Regions from separate parts of the Homo sapiens genome. Here region 2 is linked to region 1. The links come from fine-mapping of genetic effects on gene expression. A gene starts in region 1. The other region holds a variant in brackets. All regions are shown on one strand. Distances are between the middles of the regions. Region 1 holds the start of KLC2-AS1 (KLC2 antisense RNA 1). Region 2 holds the start of TMEM151A (transmembrane protein 151A).

The links. PIP is the estimated chance that this variant, and not a neighbour inherited with it, causes the effect.
Region 2: its variant is fine-mapped to the expression of KLC2-AS1 in thyroid (GTEx, PIP above 0.99). The same link has a PIP of 0.9 or more in esophagus mucosa, lung, skeletal muscle, spleen and tibial nerve.

What each region holds. Positions count from the first base shown.
Region 1 is chr11:66,258,720-66,268,794 of GRCh38, forward strand. KLC2-AS1 (KLC2 antisense RNA 1) reads right to left here and starts at 6,967. Exons shown (of 6, transcript NR_186327.1): 1 at 6,633-6,967; 2 at 6,424-6,501; 3 at 5,985-6,143; 4 at 4,972-5,161; 5 at 3,006-3,293; 6 at 848-1,123. KLC2 (kinesin light chain 2) reads left to right here. Exons shown (of 16, transcript NM_001318734.2): 2 at 1-103; 3 at 3,023-3,253; 4 at 3,404-3,473; 5 at 4,095-4,317; 6 at 4,941-5,028; 7 at 5,132-5,233; 8 at 5,327-5,500; 9 at 5,626-5,725; 10 at 6,304-6,353; 11 at 6,449-6,516; 12 at 6,936-7,044; 13 at 7,135-7,293; 14 at 7,374-7,498; 15 at 7,714-7,771; 1 more. The coding sequence ends at 8,237. It overlaps RAB1B (RAB1B, member RAS oncogene family), which reads left to right and starts at 9,920. Exons shown (of 6, transcript NM_030981.3): 1 at 9,920-9,974. The coding sequence starts at 9,961. KLC2-AS2 (KLC2 antisense RNA 2) reads right to left here and starts at 9,692. Exons shown (of 3, transcript NR_186342.1): 1 at 9,580-9,692; 2 at 9,336-9,489; 3 at 8,830-9,112. RefSeq lists enhancers at 1-550, 7,490-8,372, 9,129-9,178, 9,479-9,528, 9,649-9,978 and 1 more and silencers at 8,629-8,678, 8,699-9,018.
Region 2 is chr11:66,289,341-66,298,556 of GRCh38, forward strand. TMEM151A (transmembrane protein 151A) reads left to right here and starts at 2,554. Exons shown (of 2, transcript NM_153266.4): 1 at 2,554-2,748; 2 at 4,982-7,324. The coding sequence starts at 2,674. The coding sequence ends at 6,313. RefSeq lists enhancers at 1-112, 1-119. The variant A/C (reference allele first, on the strand shown) is at 4,422.

The sequences.
Region 1 (10,075 bases):
GGTTGCACCTGAGGCCGGCGAAGCCGAGCCTGGCTCGCAGGAGCGCTGCATCCTCCTGCGTCGCTCCCTGGAAGCCATTGAGCTTGGGCTGGGGGAGGCCCAGGTAGGTCAGTCTGGGGCACTGAGGTGGGAGGTCACTGGAGGGATCGAGCCTTCAAGAGGAATCCGGTAATGTAGGAGAAGAATCTGAGCAGGGAACCGTCTGTTTCCTGGAGCCCCATGTTAGGACCCCAGTAAATACCTTTTGAAGAAATAAATGCACTTTGGCGACCCCAGCCCTGCCCTAAGAGACCATGATCACCCTTGCCCCCACGCAGAGCCCCATTTCCGGCTCCCCTCTACCTAAGGGAGACTGGATGGCATATGAGAACAGAAAGAAAATCCTTAAGGAAACATAGCCTCCCACCAATTAATTCTTCTATTCACTCGTTAACAGATGAGTTATTGAGGGCCAGCCAGGGTGTTAGGTGGATACAGGGCCCAACAAAATAGACAAGATTCCTGCCCTATTAGAGACAAAAACACACATACAGAAATAATTGGTTGTTACAAATTGTGATGAGTTCTGCAGAGAAAAGAACAAGATTTTATGATAGCTCGCAGCAGCGAGTCTTGTCTACTGGTCAGGCAGGACTTCTGTGAGGAAATGACAAACTGAAACCTGAGGGAAGAAATGAACCAGCCTCCAGGAAAGGGAGGCAGGGGAGAAGTTGCATGTGCAAAGGTCCTGGGGTAGGAAAGAGCTTGTGGTGGAGGAACTCAGGGAAGAACTGTGTGACTGGAGCTTCATGGAAGGGAGACAGGGACAGAAGAGGCCTGGGGAGAAGCCAAGAACCAGATCATGGCCTGGTTGGTTTGGGTTTTATTCTCAGGAAATCAGAAAGCCTCTGGAGGGCTTTAAGCAGGCAGGCAACACAGTCTGACTTGAGTTTCTAAAAACTCTCTCTGGCTGAGATGTGGAGAATAAACCTCAGTGGGTCGAGGATGGAATCACTCTCCAATGAGTGGTTAGGAAGCCACTGCTGGAATTCAAATGAGAGCTGGTGCTTGGAATTAAGGGGTGGCTATGACGGTGGAGAAAAGGGACCAGTTCTGGATGTTCTGGAGGTAGGTCCAGCAAGACCTGGGGGTGGAATAAGGGAGAGAGAGAGGAAGGCAGCATCACTCCCAAGTTTGTGATTTAAGCAAATTAAGGGAGGAGAGGGCCTTGGTGGATCAGAACTCTGTTTTGGCCTCCTTTAATTGAGGCTGCCAGGATGATATGCAGTTGGAGATGTCCAGGAGCCATTGGGATGTACAAGGAGTTAGACTTGTTTTATTCCCCTCAGAGCTTGGCTGAGCCCCTGCCTGGCACGTGAACCCTGGGGAAGTTGTATCATTTTGGTTTCCTTGTCTTTAAAATAGGGATCATGCCATCTGCTGTGTACACTTCCAGGCTGTTGGGGGAATTTTTTTTTTTTTTTAAAGCTAGTGGTTATGGAAACACCTGTCACTTAGGCATTTGCTAACCAACAACAAAGTACAGGGTCTCAGACAGCCTGGCCCTCTGCAAGGACATTCACTCCCTGCCAGTTGGCCGTCAGAGGTAGAGAGGACCACTCAGGGGCCGCACACCTGGTGGAGCACGTGCACTCTCACAGAGGGGGAACAATCTGCACGGAGGGCATGGGCATCAAGGCCATGTGTGAAGCTGGAGCAAAGTGGGAGGTGTGACTAGCTGGAGACACAACTGCAGAAATGATCCTGAACCGGGAAGGACTGGGAAAGGGTGGAGGCCGGGTGTGGTGGCTCACGCCTGTAATTCCAGCACTTTGGGAGGCCCAGGTGGGAAGACTGCTTAAATCCCGGACTTCATGAGACCCTGTATCTACAAAAAATAATTTTTCTTTTTTTTTTTGAGACAGTCTTGCTCTGTTGCCCAGGCTGGAGTATAGTGGCACGATCTCAGCTCACTGCAGCCTCTGCCTCTCAGGTTCAAGTGATTCTCCTGCCTCAGCCTCCTGAGTAGCTGGGACTACAGGCACGCGCCACCACACCCAGCTAATTTTTGTATTTTTGGTAGAGATGGGGTTTCACCATGTTGGCCAGGATGGTCTTGAAATCCTGACCTCGTGATCTGTCCGCCTCAGCCTCCTGAAGTGCTAGGATTACAGGCGTGAGCCACCGTGCCTGGCCAAAAAATTTTTTAAATTAGCCAGCTGTGGTGGTGTGCACCCGTAGTCCCAGTTACTCAGGAGGCTGAGGGGGAAGGACCACTTGAGCCTGGAAGGTAGAGGCTGCAGTGAGCTGTGACGGTGCCATAGCCCTTCGGCCCAGGTGACAGAGTGAGACATTGTCTTAAATTAAAAAAAAAAAAAAAAAAGAGAGAGCAAGAAGGGAGGTTGGACCCTAGGCAGGAAGGCAGGAAGAGACTGGAAACTAAGGAAAGGAGTTGCAGAGGCTGGGGAGAGGGGTGGGGGTTGAGGCCAAGGCCTTTGGATACTTTTCCTGCCCCTGTGGCTCCTCATGCCAACTGAGCATTTGGGACACATGCCCCTTCCCTACCTGGGAGCTGCAGAAAGGCAGGGGATGCTGTGGCCCCTCAGCAGAAGTGGGGATGGAGTCTTTGGGTGGTCCTTCAGCCATCTAGCAGAGTTCTGTGGGCAAGCGCTAGCCCTGAGGCAGGGAGCAGTAACCTACTGGCTGTGGCAGCAGAGGCTTGAGTACAACCCAGGGAGAGACGAAGGAAGGGGCTAGTAGCTCAGGGAAAGCACAGCACCCCAACTAGCCCTTTTGGGGTTCTCCTGATCCTAGAAGGAAGGAACTGGGGACTCCCAAGCCTCCTGGGTTTGGGCTTTGCATTATGGTGTGTCGGGGGCCTTGAGGAGATTCTCCCTTGACAAGCAGAGAAAAGACCTGCAGCTCCTCACTGTAGGGCCAGGCCTGGCCCTTCACTGGGTGCCAGAGCCCAACTAGGCCCAGGCTACAGTCATAGGCGAGGGGGTCGACAGGCCTCCGACCCTTACCTGGGCTGGTTGCACAGGTGATCTTGGCATTGTCGAGCCACCTGGGGGCTGTAGAATCAGAGAAGCAGAAGCTGCGGGCGCAGGTGCGGCGTCTGGTGCAGGAGAACCAGTGGCTGCGTGAGGAGCTGGCGGGGACACAGCAGAAGCTGCAGCGCAGTGAGCAGGCCGTGGCCCAGCTCGAGGAGGAGAAGCAGCACTTGCTGTTCATGAGCCAGATCCGCAAGTTGGATGAAGACGCCTCCCCTAACGTGAGCTCCTACCATGGTCACTGTTGCCCAGCAAGGAGGCCTGGGAGCAGGGAGGGGCAGCATGGAGCAGATTCGGCTCCACCCCAGCCCATGGACACCCCGGCTGCCCTGTGCCTCCTTCCCTGATGCTCATCCTGTCTTCCTTCCCAGGAGGAGAAGGGGGACGTCCCCAAAGACACACTGGATGACCTGTTCCCCAATGAGGATGAGCAGAGCCCAGGTGCGGATGGGCAGTTCTGGAGTGGGGGAAGGAAAGGTTGTGTGAACTCTTGGTCCTTGGGACCGAGTGGCTGCCATGTTCCTTCCTGCCTCACTTCTGATCATGACATCCTAGTGTGTTAGAGCTTCAAGAACAGTTGTACGTGCTGCTGCTTCTCACATCCCCCCAGCTCTGTGGTGAGCAGACATCACAATTAGCTGTGGAGTCACCAGCCTGGCTTCCAGTGCTGCTCTGCCACTAGCTTCCCTGACCCTTGGGAGAGTTCTCTTCCTCTCCGAATCACCTCTGAAGGAGGCACATGCAGACAGCCACAATGGGGCCAGTGCCTGCTTTGCTGATGGTACTGGTTATGCATCGGGGCCTCCACTCTGTACACAGGGACACAGGCTCAGAGGTTAGGCAGCTTGCCCCAGGACACAGAGCCTGAAGTACTGGAGCTGGGCCTCTACCCCCTCTTTCTATGGGGTAACTAGACCCATTCTATAAATGGGGAAACTGAGAAAGAGTGGTTAGTGACTTGCCCAGGGCCATGTGTCAAGTGGCTCAAAGGCACAGCTGGCATGTGCCATCCCAGTCCAGTGGGCAGATGGTACATCTGACCTCCTGCCCTTGGCCCTGCAGCCCCTAGCCCAGGAGGAGGGGATGTGTCTGGTCAGCATGGGGGCTACGAGATCCCGGCCCGGCTCCGCACCCTGCACAACCTGGTGATCCAATACGCCTCACAGGGCCGCTACGAGGTAGCTGTGCCACTCTGCAAGCAGGCACTCGAAGACCTGGAGAAGACGTCAGGCCACGACCACCCTGACGTTGCCACCATGCTGAACATCCTGGCACTGGTCTATCGGTGAGGACTCTCTGGGGGTGCCCAAATTCTTCTGGAAGGCTCCAGCCCTGGATCACTAACCCTTGGTGCCTGCTGTGGGCCAGGACTCGTGGCCCACCTGCGTGGAGCTGGGCTACAGATGCAAGTAAAACTGTCTAGTGTAAGAGAGAGGCTTGGCCAGAACTGGGGAGGGACTGCACATGAGGACTCCAGGGGTCCTGGGGAGTCCACACAGCTTCTCCAGGCACCAAGGCTGGAGGAGGGGCTTTGCCAGAAAGTGAGTTTGCCCAAACACAAGAGGGCTAGAAAAGGTTCCCATGGCAAAAAGCCAGCATGAGCAAAGGCACTGGGACCTGGAGAGCAGGACACGCTAAAGGGGCAGCAGGAGAGCCATGTGGCGCCCAGGAATGCTAGGCACCAGGCAGTCGGTGGGACCCCAGCACTGCGCACCCCAGCCAATTGTGAGAAAACTGCCTACAGCCCTTGGAGCTTGGAGAGCAGGAGCTGAGCAGGTCTCCCCACACTCTGGGTCTCACTCTGTCATACACACTCAGTGAGTACAGGAGTGACCACAGGGATTGCAGACCATTGGGGAGGGCCTTGAGCTGGAGGACAGCCCTGACCATGCTCCTACCTGCTCCCAGGGATCAGAACAAGTACAAGGAGGCTGCCCACCTGCTCAATGATGCTCTGGCCATCCGGGAGAAAACACTGGGCAAGGACCACCCAGCCGTGAGTGAGGGTTGGGTGGGAGGTGGGGGCTGTGCCCCATCCCCTGCAGGTCCCAGAGTCCTGCAGGGCCTGAGTCAAGAAGCTTCCGTTCTCCCACCTCCAGGTGGCTGCGACACTAAACAACCTGGCAGTCCTGTATGGCAAGAGGGGCAAGTACAAGGAGGCTGAGCCATTGTGCAAGCGGGCACTGGAGATCCGGGAGAAGGTGGGAACAGGCAGGGCTGGGCAGGCTGGGGGTCTGGGAGGCAGGGGCCCGGGCAGCCCTGAGCCCAACCCCTGGCTCCCTCTCCCATCCCAGGTCCTGGGCAAGTTTCACCCAGATGTGGCCAAGCAGCTCAGCAACCTGGCCCTGCTGTGCCAGAACCAGGGCAAAGCTGAGGAGGTGGAATATTACTATCGGCGGGCACTGGAGATCTATGCTACACGCCTCGGGCCCGATGACCCCAATGTGGCCAAGACCAAGAACAACCTGGTACCTTGGGGCTGAGAGGAGCTGGAGGATGGGAAGGAGGGAGGCAGGGATGAGGTTGGGGAAGAAGGAGAGAAAAAGGCTTGGCTGCATGCATCCCGCTCACTCTCTGGGTCTCCCGCTTCCAGGCTTCCTGCTACCTGAAGCAGGGCAAGTACCAGGATGCGGAGACCTTGTACAAGGAGATCCTCACCCGCGCTCATGAGAAAGAGTTTGGCTCTGTCAATGGTGAGTGCGTGGTCACCAGGTGCCTCTAGCCCATCCATCCCAGGCCCACTCTGCCATCAGCACCCAGGACAAATCCCTCAGCAGGGCAGGCCCTCAGGCTTTGGCCTGGCTGGTCACCAGCCTCACCCTCAGATGGTGCCCAGCCACCTGTGCTCACGTTTGCACACATGAGCACACACCCAACTCACGCAGCCCCCTTGGCCTGCTAGGGCCTCACACGCCTTTGCATCCCCCTTCTCCACTGGCGATTCTTGCTCACCTTGAGGGCCTGCCCCAGTGTCTCCCACTCTGGGAAACCACCTCTGGCCCCGGATGGTCAGTCATCTGCTCCTGAGTCCCTCGGAGCCTGGCCCATCATTCAGGCCTAGCACATGTCTTGGGCTGTGGCCTGAGGTGCAAGGGTCTGTTCTGCTCATCTCTGTCCAGAAGAGGGTCAGCAGTGTTTTGGGTCTTACTCTTGTTCATGCATTCAACGAAGCCCAACCGTGGTCTCCCCTCCCCTGACCCCAGTCCTGTGTCCAGCCCAACCAGGTGAGACCTATATGGTAGGCTGGTGACAGTCCCCTTTCTCTCCCCAGGGGACAACAAGCCCATCTGGATGCACGCAGAGGAGCGGGAGGAAAGCAAGGTAGCTCTGTGGGGCAGGCTGGGCGGTTGTCAGGGGAGGCTGGGATGTGCAGAGGGGGGCCTGCTCTCACTTCTTGTGACCATTCTTTCCTCCAGGATAAGCGCCGGGACAGCGCCCCCTATGGGGAATACGGCAGCTGGTACAAGGCCTGTAAAGTAGACAGGTGAGTGGGGCGGGGCTGGGCTGGGGAGCAGGGCACGGCAGGGCGGGCTCCACATTCCATACTCTCACCCCCAACACACCCCTCCTCTGCTGCTCATCTGGCAAGGCCCAACTCACAGGTCACCTGTCCCAAGAAGGCTCTGTCTCCCAATTCTCAGCCTAATTCTCTGGCTCTGGGTCTCCCAGCTTTTGGTCCTGGTGACAACATCCCATGAGGGCCCTGGGGCCAGGTCCCCAGCCCTGGGGTGATTTCCCCAGGACAGAAGAGGCTGGGTGGGCCCAGCACAGGGCTTGACATGGGAAGGAATGGATTCTGGCTACCCCGGAGGTCCATGCTTCCTCAGGGCCCACTGTGGGCTGGGTGCCAGGATGGGCCCTGGGTCTGGGGGAACATGGAGTTTGAGACTGTCCCATCCACAGCCCCACAGTCAACACCACCCTGCGCAGCTTGGGGGCCCTATACCGGCGCCAGGGCAAGCTGGAAGCCGCGCACACACTAGAGGACTGTGCCAGCCGTAACCGCAAGCAGGTGGGGCTCCATGCAGGAGGGGGTGGGCAGACACCTGTGTGGCCCTGGGTGTGGTCCATTCACTGCCTGATGCCCCTGCCCCTCCCTCAGGGTTTGGACCCCGCAAGCCAGACCAAGGTGGTAGAACTGCTGAAAGATGGCAGTGGCAGGCGGGGAGACCGCCGCAGCAGCCGAGACATGGCTGGGGGTGCCGGGCCTCGGTCTGAGTCTGACCTCGAGGACGTGGGACCTACAGCTGAGTGGAATGGGGTGAGTCCGGGGCCTGGGCCGGGTCGGGCTGGGAGCCTAGGTGGCCAGCGGGGCCTAGAGGCAAGCCTGTCCACCTGCAGGATGGCAGTGGCTCCTTGAGGCGCAGCGGTTCCTTTGGGAAACTCCGGGATGCCCTGAGGCGCAGCAGTGAGATGCTGGTAAAGAAGCTGCAGGGGGGCACCCCCCAGGAGCCCCCTAACCCCAGGTGAGCCCCCCACCAAGGTGAGCCTCAAGAACCACCCAGCAACCCCGGATGAGCTCCTGACCCAGAGTGTGCCCCACTGACCCCAGGCAACCTCCCCATCCCTCTCAGGCTCCACCACCCACCAGTCTGTTCCCTCCCCAGCCCCACCCTTCTCCCTGCCCCCATCTCCCGTGAGTTCCTCCTTGGGCAAATCCCAGGCTGTCCTTTTCCCTCAGGATGAAGCGGGCCAGTTCCCTCAACTTCCTCAACAAGAGCGTGGAAGAGCCGACCCAGGTAGGGGCAGGCGGGTGTCTGGGCACTGGGCAGCTGCGGCCGGGGCTGCATGCGTGCTGCCAAGCTTCCCTCCAGCATGCCTCTTCATCCAGCAACAGTTCCTGGCTCTGTCTCAGGCCTACTTTGGGCTGGACAACGGGGAGACACGAGGGGAACCCAGCCTCTCCTGGGGGTGGACGTGTAAACGGCCAGTGCTAACACCGTCACTGTGGAGATGGACGGGAGTGTCAGGGCACCAGGGTGTGGCCTTGGGTCAGAACTGCCATTGCCTCTGCCCAGCTCAGGGATTCCGGCTGCCTCTGCCAGGTCAGACCCCTTCAGGCCAGGGAGGCACAGACTGGCAGCAGCACAGGGCTGAGCCACCTGCCCCCTCTGCCCACAGCCTGGAGGCACAGGTCTCTCTGACAGCCGCACTCTCAGCTCCAGCTCCATGGACCTCTCCCGACGAAGCTCCCTGGTGGGCTAATGCTGAAGGGGCAGCCAGTCACCAGAGCGCCCACCTGGCACACCCCCCTCACCCCAGCCCTGCGCATGGGCCTGCTGCTTGTCCCGCCTGTCTCTCCCACAGCCCCTGTCTTTTCTGTTCAATCTCAGGGTAACCTTCTCCCTTGTCATCTCAGCCTGAGCCCTGGAGGCTGGGCCTGCCCACTCCAGCTCCATCCCTTATTTATTCCTTCCAGCAGGGCCCTCTTCCCTAGGTTCGGGCCAGCAGGAGGTGCCGGCTGGAGTCTCCACCATAGACTCAGTGGCCTGGCCTCCCCAGACCCCAGAGCCAAGAACACTAAGCACTCGCCGGCCCTTCGGCACCCTCGCCCTCCCTCCCGACTCAACCCGGCCGTTGCTTCTGTATATAGAGAAATAAGTTATTGGCCGCGCGCCTCCCTTCAGTCCACGGTACTACCCGGGCCTCCCCTCGTCCCTCTTCTAGTGGTACCGCCCAGGCCTTAATCACCCCCATTCCGTGCGGTGGTATCTCCCAGGCTCTACATTCTCGGGAGCGGCGCCTCCCAAGGGGGTCCTGGGACCTTCTCGCGCTCCTCCTGGCCTCTGAGGGATGCGTCCTACCCGCGCCATCGCCCCGTGGCCCAGGACGGGGACCTCCCCTTAGTCCGTCCTCCCACCGCCGGGCCCTGCCCCGCATCCCGGCCTTATGCACTGCCCCTCCCACCCGGCCCCGCCCAGGCACGGCCGACCCCGCCCCGGGCACCGCCCACCGAGCCATCCTGCCTCGCCTCCCCCCACGCCTGCAGCTTCTCGCGAGGGGCGGCGACGGTCCCCTGGTGGCAGGAGGGGCTCCCCCTGTTGCGGGTGAGGCGGCTGCTCTCATATTTTCAGATGTTGCTGTAGAAATAAAGACGGTTTAAATCTGAGCTGGGCTTGTTTTGAGACGGAGGTCGGGGGCCCCCAGCGTCTCTAGACTGGGGTGGAGCCGGGAAGGGTCGTGCGTGAGTGGGGGACAGTGTGTCTCGCTCAACCGCTGTCCGCGCAGCTGGGCCCAGATATTGTGCCCCACCCCGGAATTGCGTGAGGGGCCCACAAGTCAGGCTTTCCCTAAAACACTCACTTGTGGGGTTCTGGAGACCGCGGGCTCTTATGAGCTCTGCTCCTCACAAAGTTTTTGACCTTGAGTGAGTTTCCCGAGACTCAGTTTTTTCATCTATGAAATGCGGGTGATGACGCGCGGCTGCGAGTTAGGACTGCCCAGTACACGAAGAACCCTGGACAAATGTACTTTTATTAGTCTTACTAGAACCCACATTCTCATTTAATGTTCACAACGTGGGTATTGGGAGGGCAAGGATGACTACCTCCGTCAGACAGATGTGAAACGTGCCAAGCCCAGCCCTAAATTGAGCTTTCTAAACACCGAGTCGCGGTCAGGCTTTCCAGCACTGTCCTCAAGCCTGAGTGCGTCCGGAGTGCAAACTACAAGCCCCAGAAGGCAATGCGCCAGCAGTGATGGGAGTGGGCGCGGAGGCGCGGGCTCCCCGACTACGCCTGCGCAGCGGGGCTGAGTTGGAGAACGTCTTAGACTACAAGTTCCGGGAATCAGCGCGGCGAGGCCTGAGAAGAAGACGTTTGCGCCTGCGCGTCGCGGGCGGGGCCTCTGGGGCGGAGCGGCCACCATCTTGGAACGGGAGGCGGAGCAGAGTCGACTGGGAGCGACCGAGCGGGCCGCCGCCGCCGCCATGAACCCCGAATAGTGAGTGAGCCCCGCCCGCGCCGTCCAGCGCAGCCTCGATCCCGAATACAGGGCTGTACGCTTACCGGGGTTGTCTGGCCCGGGTCAGGACTGTGCGGCGC
Region 2 (9,216 bases), 30 kb after region 1:
TAAGAAAGAAGGTGGGCGAGAATTATTTGCGCGCCTGCGCGGTGAGGCACTTGACGCACCCTGCCACGACTACACCAGGGAGTCGAGAGGTAACCTGCAGCCGGAGTCAGGAGCAAAGCTTCCTTGGTGGGACGTACTCCAGGAGGGAACGGGGCGGTCGAGTTCCAACCAAGCCCTGCCCTTCGGGGCGCCTGTTTCTCCCTCTCTGGGCTTGTTTTCCTCCCCCGTCACCTACACTTCACCCAATCTTGGAACGGAGCCCCGGCAGACCCGGAGGTGGTGGTGGGAGGCCGGACCTATCAGTGACAGAGCTGCCAAGCAAGCCCCAGGATGCTGACTCCACCCGCCTCCCACTCCTCTTCTCCGCGCGGGTGCTGTCCGTCGTCCGGTGCTGAAAATGTCCTCCCGCCTCAGCCGCCATCCTGTAGACTCCCGGGGGCCTGCGTATGGGAAGATTTGGGGTCTCGAACCACACGCTCCTAGCGAGCGCGTGGCCGCACGCACACATACACGCATACTGCAAAACTGGGGCCCAGAGGATCCGAAGTCTGAGAGATTGGGTGGTATAGGTGGGGCAGGATCCTGCCCCGGGCCTGTCCCATAGACTCTCCCGTAGTCCAGCAGATTTGGGGGCAGAGGTGTGCTGATTTGCGTCCTGAAGCTGCAGCCTAAACTCCTGAGTCATCGCCGGGCCTGTGGTCTTCTTGAAGTGAGGCCCCTAAGCCTCACTTGTAGTCCCGGGGGTTCCTTTCTCTCCACCCAGGTTCTGATCACTCCCAACCCCGCGGAGACAGTCTTCAGGGGCCTCCCTCTCACAGACCTTCAGCCACCGCTTTCTAGAGAGCATGAGCAGGTTCTCTGCGACCTCTCTAATTAGCTACCAGGTATCCAGTTACACCAGATGACCTTCCTGCTCCCCAAACTCAGCCCACGTGGTCTGATTGCAGTGCCATTGCCCAGAGGTCCCCTCCACCTGGGATGCCCTTCCCCCTCATATCCACTTGTCCATAAGCCTAGTTATCTTTAAGAGTTAGTTCATCTCGTGCCTCTCAGAGGGACAAAGGGGACAGAGACCTGACCCGGTCAGGGGTGGAGGTCATAGGTTGGGTTCTAGGCCCCCTCTGGGTGCACCCAATTTGCCCTGCATGTAAGTTCCATGAGGACAGGCCCTGTTGTCATTCTCCACTTCCACCCTTGTCTTCCCAGTGCCAAGCACAATACTTGCATATGGAAGACACCCAATAAACATCTGTGTCCAAGAAATTCATAATAAATAGATAAAACCCTGGACCAGTCCTTTCCTGTGTCCACATCTCAATTACCTAATCTTTAAGTGGGTAAGGATGTTTAATTGAATGGTCTTTGAGTTGCTCTTTGCCTGAACACACGCACATACAAAAATGAATTAACCCACCAGTATTGCAGCTCATTTTCTGCCCATATTGTCTAGTTTGGGAGCAAAGCCAGACCCAGACACAGATGTGAAGATCTGAGGCCCTGGAGGGCTAGGAGGTAGCACTGGGGCCACGTGTACCTGGGAGGGGGTCATCTAATGCAAGTCAGTTCCCATGTCACTGCAGGGCACAATGGATACTTGTAAACTGAATCCAAAACCTTTCTATGTCTTTTCTTTTCCTTCTTTCTTTCTTTATTTCTTTTTCTCCCTTTCTTTCTGTCTTCTTCTTCTTCTCCTTCTCCTTCTCATTCTTCTTCTCCTTCTAGGCAGGGTCTCACTTTATCACGCAGCTGGAGAACAGTGGTGCAAACACAGCTCACTGCAGCCTCTTACTCCCAGACTCAATTGATCCTCCTGTCTTAGCCTCCCAAGTAGCTGGGAATACAGGTGCACACCACACCATCATGCCCAGCTCATTTTTTAATTTTTTGTATAGGCAGGGTTTCGCCATGTTTCCAAGGCTGCTGGAATTCCTGGACTCCAGTGATCCTCCCACCTCGGTCTCCCAAAGTGCTGGGATTACAGGCATGAGCCACTCAGTCCAGCTTTTATCCCCATTTTTCAGATGGGAAAACTGAGGTTGAGAGTGGAGCATGCTGGCCCAAGGTCACGCAGCCTAGGGTCCCTTGTGTCCTGGCCCCAGCCTGCCTGTCCTAAGCTGAGCCCAGCACCCCTGCCCAGCCAGTGAGACTCGTCACGCTTTTCTCAGCTGTAACTACCCTCTTCTCCAAGTGAGGCTTCAGGGATGGGATCTGGGTGGGCTTAACTCTGGGCCTACTCCTTAGAGATGGGACCCCGCGAGCGCCCACCCACCTTGGAGATTCTCCTTCCTCGAGGGTTTTACAGCCCGGGAAGCTCAGGCGCCAGAGGGTTAGACCAGCTCAAGGTCGCGAGCGCGAGCGCGGCCGGAGGAGAACCCAGGGGTCCAGCCGCCCAGCGGGGGCTTCTCGGGGACGGGCGGAGCGCCCGCGGTGCCAGGCGCTGCCGGCGGCGCCGCCGGTGCCGCGGGGGCGGGGTCAGCGGAGGGCGGGGCGCCTGGCACCCGGGCCGCCAACGCCGCCGCCGCCGCTGCCGCCGCGCTCGGGCTCGAGCTCCGCGCACTCCCTCCGCGGCCGCTGAGCCGAGCGGACGCCCCCGGGGGCCGCGTCGCAGCCCTCCGTGCTCCCCCCTATCATGCCCGGTGCCCAGGCTGGGGCCGCCCAAGCAGCCAGGACACCATGCCCGAGGACGGCGCTGGCGACGGCGGGGAGGTGCCCGCGCTCATCCCGGACGGCGAGCCGCTGCGGGAAGAGGTACCGGCGCTGGGGGGGCCGGAGCCGGGCCTGGGGCGGCGTGAGAGGGACCAGTGCAAAAGGCGACCCCAAGAGAGGGGCTGAGGAGGGAAGTCCCAGAGCCCCTACGGCCAATGACGTCATTGGGGTCACCTGCGCCCTGCCAAGGGTCCAGGGGCCCGCGTTGGGGGTAGGGGTGGGGCGGCTGGACAGCAATATGCGGGGCGACTTCCGCCCCCGGCGTCCCCTCATCCAGCCTCGCCCGTCCTGTGACGTCAGTGCCTGGCCCCCACGCGTCCCAGTGCCGCAGCGCAGCGGGGGATGCTGCCCCCACCCCCAGGGCCGCGGGGTCAGGTCCCCAGCCCGGCCCAGCCGCTCACGAGGTGTCCGGGCAGCGCCTGCAATGCAGCAGCAGTCGCAGAGCCTAGAGGGGAGGAGGGGAAGAGGAAGGGAGGCGCCTGGGTACCCCTTCTCCTTGTCCTCGAGGTGAGGATTGAGGGCCCATTCTGCTGGCTGGGACCCCCGACGGCCCCTCCTCAGCCCTAGCCAGGAAGGTCTGCAGGACCTGGGGCCCCGAGTGATGTGTGGGGTGATAGGGTGGTGAGTGGGGCTGTGCATGCATTTGGGTGAATGTAGCCTGCTTCTGTGTGTGTGTTGTGTGGGTGTGTGAATTGGGTGTGTGCGCCCTGTAGTCAGGTGAGGGGCGAGTGGGTGCCTGGCTCGGGTTGTCACCCAGTGGTCTAGGTGTGCGCATGTGAGTGAGTCCCTTTGTGGGCAGGTCTCTCCCTGTGGAGTCTGAGGAGCCTGGGGGTCAGTTTGCAGTGGGGGGTGGGGAGATGTGCACTGTGGTCAGGTGAAGGTCTGGTATGTCTCTGGGCTTCACTGCACGTGCAACGTGTATGTGCACGTGTGTGTCCTGTGGTGGATGGGTATGTGGTGTGTGCGTGTGTGTGTGTATGTGTGTGTACCATGCTACGGTTCTGGGAGTCTGTGCCCTGGGGACAGGCGAGGGTCTGGAGTTTCCTGGGTGACAGGCAGTGTGGCCCTCCACGGTGGGTGGGTCTGTGATGAGCATGTGTTGGAGGGGCGTGGACAAGTGTGTGTGCACCTGACAGGCCTTGCAGGTCAGCTGGCGCTGTGCTCCCATGCTGGGTGATGGGGACAGGCTGTATCTGGGCTGGGCTAGGGGGTGGTTCCTCTCCTCTTGGGCCTCTGGAGGCCTGGTAGGTCTGGGGTAGGAGAGGTGGCCCCTTAACCCCCCTTTTGTTGTTTCCACTTTTTTCCTCCCCTTTTTACCCTTCCCCTCGCCCCACTTTATCCCTACCTGCTTCTCTCTCCATGGCACCTGAGGGTGAGGTGGCTAGGCTGGCAGCCCTGCCAGGGAGGGTGTGGCAAGCCCTCTGAGCCAGGGAGTGGCCCCTGCTGCCCAGTAGCTGTGTCCCACCCCCTTGCTCAGCACAGATGGGGAGTGGAGGATGGCCCTCCATCTGCTCCCCACCCCAAGACTCGCACCTCCCCCGTTCTTGAGGCTCCCTCTTTCTCATCAACTCAAAAGCCTCTGCCGAGACTTCTGAGTCCCTATGGAACAAGGGACCAGAGGGAGTCTCAGGGTAATGGTGATCATATTTATTCCCATGGCCAGACCCTGTGCTCACTTCTTCACACATATGATCTTGTTGAATCCTCACAATAGA[A/C]CCAGTTTACAGATGAGGAAATTGAGGTCCAGAGAGGATGAGGGACCTGCCCAAGTCATACAGTAAGTAGTGGAGCCAGCACTGGCTCCTGGGCAGTGGAACTCCAAAGCCCATGCTGTTTACACCTCAGACCCCTTCCACCCTGGCTTCCCAAACCAACAGGACCAAGAATCAAGGCCCAGAGAGGGCAGAGATATAGCCAAGTCCACACAGCAAATCAGGGCAGAGCCAGGACCAGAACCCACAATAGCCAGTGCAAGGATCCATCCCTCCTGGCTGAGGTGGGCCTGCTGTCTCCTGTGTGCGGTTTGCCGAGTGCTAGCACGGCACAGTGGAGGATGGGTTTGGGGCAGCGAGTCCTGGGTTTGAATATGCAGCGCCACTGTGAGTGAGCTGGAAATGTGAAGCCTGGAGCAAGCTGCTCATCCCTCTAAGCCTCAGTTTCCTCCTCTGTAAAATGGGGCTCACGGTATCACCTTCCTCAGCCGGGTTAAGCAAAGTGGCAGGCCCCACTGATGGCCCCACCTGACACAGACTTCCCTTTCTCTGCCCACCTGCAGCAGCGGCCCCTGAAACAGTCCCTGGGAAGCTCCCTGTGCCGCGAGTCGCACTGGAAGTGCCTGCTCCTCACGCTGCTCATCCACGCCTGCGGGGCCGTGGTGGCCTGGTGTCGCCTGGCCACAGTGCCGCGGCTGGTCCTGGGGCCCGAGGCCGCCTTGGCCCGGGGAGCCGGGGGCCCGCCACCGACCTACCCGGCCAGCCCCTGCTCCGATGGCTACCTGTACATCCCGCTGGCCTTCGTCTCCCTCCTCTACCTCCTCTACCTGGCTGAGTGCTGGCACTGTCACGTGCGGTCCTGCCAGGCGCCACGCACCGACGCCCACACGGTGCTGGCGCTGATCCGCCGGCTGCAGCAGGCGCCGCCGTGCGTCTGGTGGAAGGCCACCAGCTATCACTACGTGCGGCGCACACGCCAGATCACGCGCTACCGCAACGGCGACGCCTACACCACCACGCAGGTGTACCATGAGCGCGCTGACAGCCGCACGGCCCGCGGCGAGTTTGACTACTCGGCGCACGGCGTCCGCGACGTCTCCAAGGAGCTGGTGGGGCTGGCGGAGCACGCGGCCACGCGGCTGCGCTTCACCAAGTGCTTCAGCTTCGGCAGCGCGGAGGCCGAGGCCTCGTACCTCACGCAGCGGGCGCGCTTCTTCAGCGCCAACGAGGGCCTGGACGACTATCTGGAGGCGCGCGAGGGCATGCACCTGAAGGACGTAGACTTCCGCGAGTCGCTCATGGTCTTCGCCGACCCCCGCAGCCCGCCCTGGTACGCGCGCGCCTGGGTCTTCTGGCTCGTGTCGGCGGCCACGCTGTCGTGGCCCCTGCGCGTCGTGGCCGCCTATGGCACGGCTCACGTGCACTACCAGGTGGAGAAGCTCTTTGGCGCCAGCTCGCCCCCGCCGGGGGCCGTGCCCAGCGGGCCCCCGCTGTCCCGCGTGGCCACAGTGGACTTCACTGAGCTCGAGTGGCACATCTGCTCCAACCGGCAGCTGGTGCCCAGCTACTCGGAGGCCGTGGTCATGGGCGCGGGCTCGGGCGCCTACCTCAGAGGCTGCCAGCGCTGCCGCCGCTCTGTCAGCAGCAACTCGCTGCCCCCCGCCCGGCCCAGCGGGCCCCGCCTGCCCTTCAGCCGCAGCCGCCTCTCGCTGGGCGCTGGCGGCCGGGCCACGCCAGGGGTCTTCCGCAGCCTGAGCGGGGGGCCGCTGGGGCGCCGTGGAGAGGACACGGAACCCCTGGAGAGCCCGCCCTGCTATGAGGACGCCCTCTACTTCCCGGTGCTCATTGTCCACGGAGACAGCGGCTGCCAGGGGGATGGGCAGGGTGCTCTCTGAGACCCCCCACGGCCCCCAGAGTGGCCCCCTCCCCACCATTCCACCATGGGCTTAGATGCCCGAGTGATTGTTGTCCAAAACAGGCGGGAAAACAGACCAGCCACACACAAGGGGCAGGGGTGAGGGTGGGGGTGGGGGTCCTTAAACAGACTAAAATGCAGTTACCTGTGGTCATTTTGGAGGAAGTGGAAGCCTAAGAATCGCCCCCAGCATGGCTTCATCCCCCAAGATGGCCGATGATCTGGCCTGAAGGCCTCTCACAAAGGGCAGGAGAAGAAGCTTCCAGAAAGGCTGGGATGGAGGAGGAGTCCTGCGGCCAGCTGTTGCCTGCAGCAGAGGCTGCCTGTGGACACTTCCCTACCGGGGCTGAGGCCATGCTGGGAGCCCCCCCAGTGACGCAGAAGCACAAATTGGAGGCTTGGGGCCATGCCCAGCCAGGTTGGCTTCCCTGGGGCTGAAGAGCTGGCTGTGGTGGCACCATGGCCTTGGCCCTGCTACTCACCCAACATTCCCATCCTCCCCTGATAGGCCCCTCCTCCTTGCCTGCCCTCTCTCCCGCTGCTCAGGGCCAGTCACTCCCCCCACATGCAGCTACCCCTACAACCTGGGGTTCCTTCTCAGGGCCTCACCTGGTCCCCACATCCCCTGGCCTCTGCTCCTGCCTCCCAAAGTCCATGTCTGCCTCCATCAGCCACACACACGCAGGGACGCCCGTTCCTTGCCCTCCCGGACTTATCTACTCTTCACTTTCCTGATGATCCATGGGGCCCAGGCCTAGAGGGCATCCGAGGGGCTGGGCCTTGGCCACAGCCTCTTGGATGATGTCCTTGCTCCACCACGCAGGCCCTTGCTTCTCCCATCAACGAGTCTTGGCCCAGGGGACACTGACCCTCCCCCAGGGAGGAGAGAGGAGTTCCTTCCCTTTCAACGAGGGCTTCCACGCCCTCTAAGGGGTGGCGGGGAAGGGAGGAGGCTGAGAAGATGCAGATTAAATAAAGGTATGGAATGGAAGGCCTGTGCATTCCTGGGTCATGGGTCTAAGGCCTCCACTGCAAGCATTATGGGCCCCCATGGTTCAGGGCACGATGAGGGGTTCTGGGAAGGGACTCAGAATTGGGCTCCAGTGTTCCCAGGAACCAAGTAAGCAGAGGAGAGGAAACCTCCCCTGCCTAGCCTGGGGCCTCTGAGACTCAAGTGTGAGGCGCTCTGAGCACCTGGCTCCCCTGACTCCGGTATCTGGGCCTGGGTCACTGCTAAGGCATTGTCAAGGTGGCCCTTGTTCCAGCTCAGTGGGACATTCCACTCTGCTGCTGGGCATGCCGAGGGCTAAGGGAGTGGTGGCCGGTCCCCAAAGTGGGGAGAAAGAGCTATGGTCTGTGACTCGAATTCGGTGCCCCCCCAGCGGCTACTGACATTATCAATCTGAGGGAAAGGGCATGAAGCAGGTCAGAAGACACAAAGCTGGAAAGGGCAGCCCCAAACCAGGGCAGGCTGGCATGGAATCCAAAGGCAGAGAAAACATCAGGGAAAAGGAAGGTCCTGACTCCCTGATGGAGCTCTGAAAGATTCCTGGACGTGGCATTGTCACATGTGCAGCAGTAAAGGGTGTTCACTGTGCAAGGGCAGTGGGCTAAGGGGCAAGCGTGCATGGAATCCAGCCTACAGGCCACTCCCCAAACTCTGGCATGGAGCTACATCCACTTGGAGAAAGGGGACCGTTTTCCTTTTCACGCAAAGGTGGCTTAAGGGCTAGTGGTGGCCCGGGAAGTGTGCTGAGAATGGGTGGATTTCACTAAGCAAAGACATGGCAAGCAATGTCTTGGACAGCCGATGCTGCCCAGACAAAGGCCTGGTTGTCGGGCATGAGCTGAGGTGTGACAAGGAGATAGAAGCAAGAAGCCATGGAAGGCTTTGCTGCAGCTTCCATGCCAAACCCTAGAATTTGTCCTTAAACTGGAGCAAACTGGGCAATCTGGAACCATGGAAGGGGGTTGGGCAGGGACGTGATACAGTCAAGGCTGCATTTTAGGATATTTAGCAAAAGTCCAGCGACCTGCTGGCTCTGTCGGGAGGGTGGAGTGAAAGACCAGAGTTCTCCCTGTGCGTTAACCCACAGCCTCTCTTCTTTGGGTGTGAAATCAGTTCCTCGTTCAGAAGCAAATTAGGTGGAAAACCCTGTGGTGCCCAAACATTCAACAAGGCTGCAGGGGGTGGCCAGGCACAGTGGCTCATGCCTGTAATTCCAGCACTTTCGGAGGCCGGGGCAGACAGATCATTTGAGGTCAGGAGTTTGAGATCAGCCTGGCCAACATGGTGAGACACCCCCCACCCCCGTCTTTACAAAAAATACAAAAATTAGCTGGGTGTGGTGGCGGGCACCTGTGACAGCTACTCAGGAGGCTGAGGCAGGAGAATCGCTTGAACCCGAGAGGCAGAGGATGCAGTGAGCTGAAATTGCGCCACTGCACTCCACCTGAGACTGTCAAAAAAAAAAAAAAAAAAAAAGGCTCCAGCAGGTAGGGAGGCCAGCATGCTGGTTTCAGCTCCTTGCCATGGGAAAGACCCTTTTTCCACCATTCTGCTCTAACACCATAGCCAACAACTGCCCACTGGCCACTCACTGTCCATTCTCCTCCCTTCCCCAATAACAGAACCCCAGTTTTGCTGCAGAAGGCAATGTGCCCAGCTAAAGGGCAACATTTCCAGCCTCCCTGGCATATATGGTATGACTGTGTGGCTGAATTCTAGGATATTAGATATAAACAGAAGGTGCTGGAAGGGATCTCCAAGAATGCCCCTTGAATAGAAGCAGTATTGATGAAGGCCATTTTTGTCCTCTCTGCTTCAGCCTGCATTCAGCCTTGGATGCATATGTGATAGCTGGAACGCCAGCAGCCATCTTG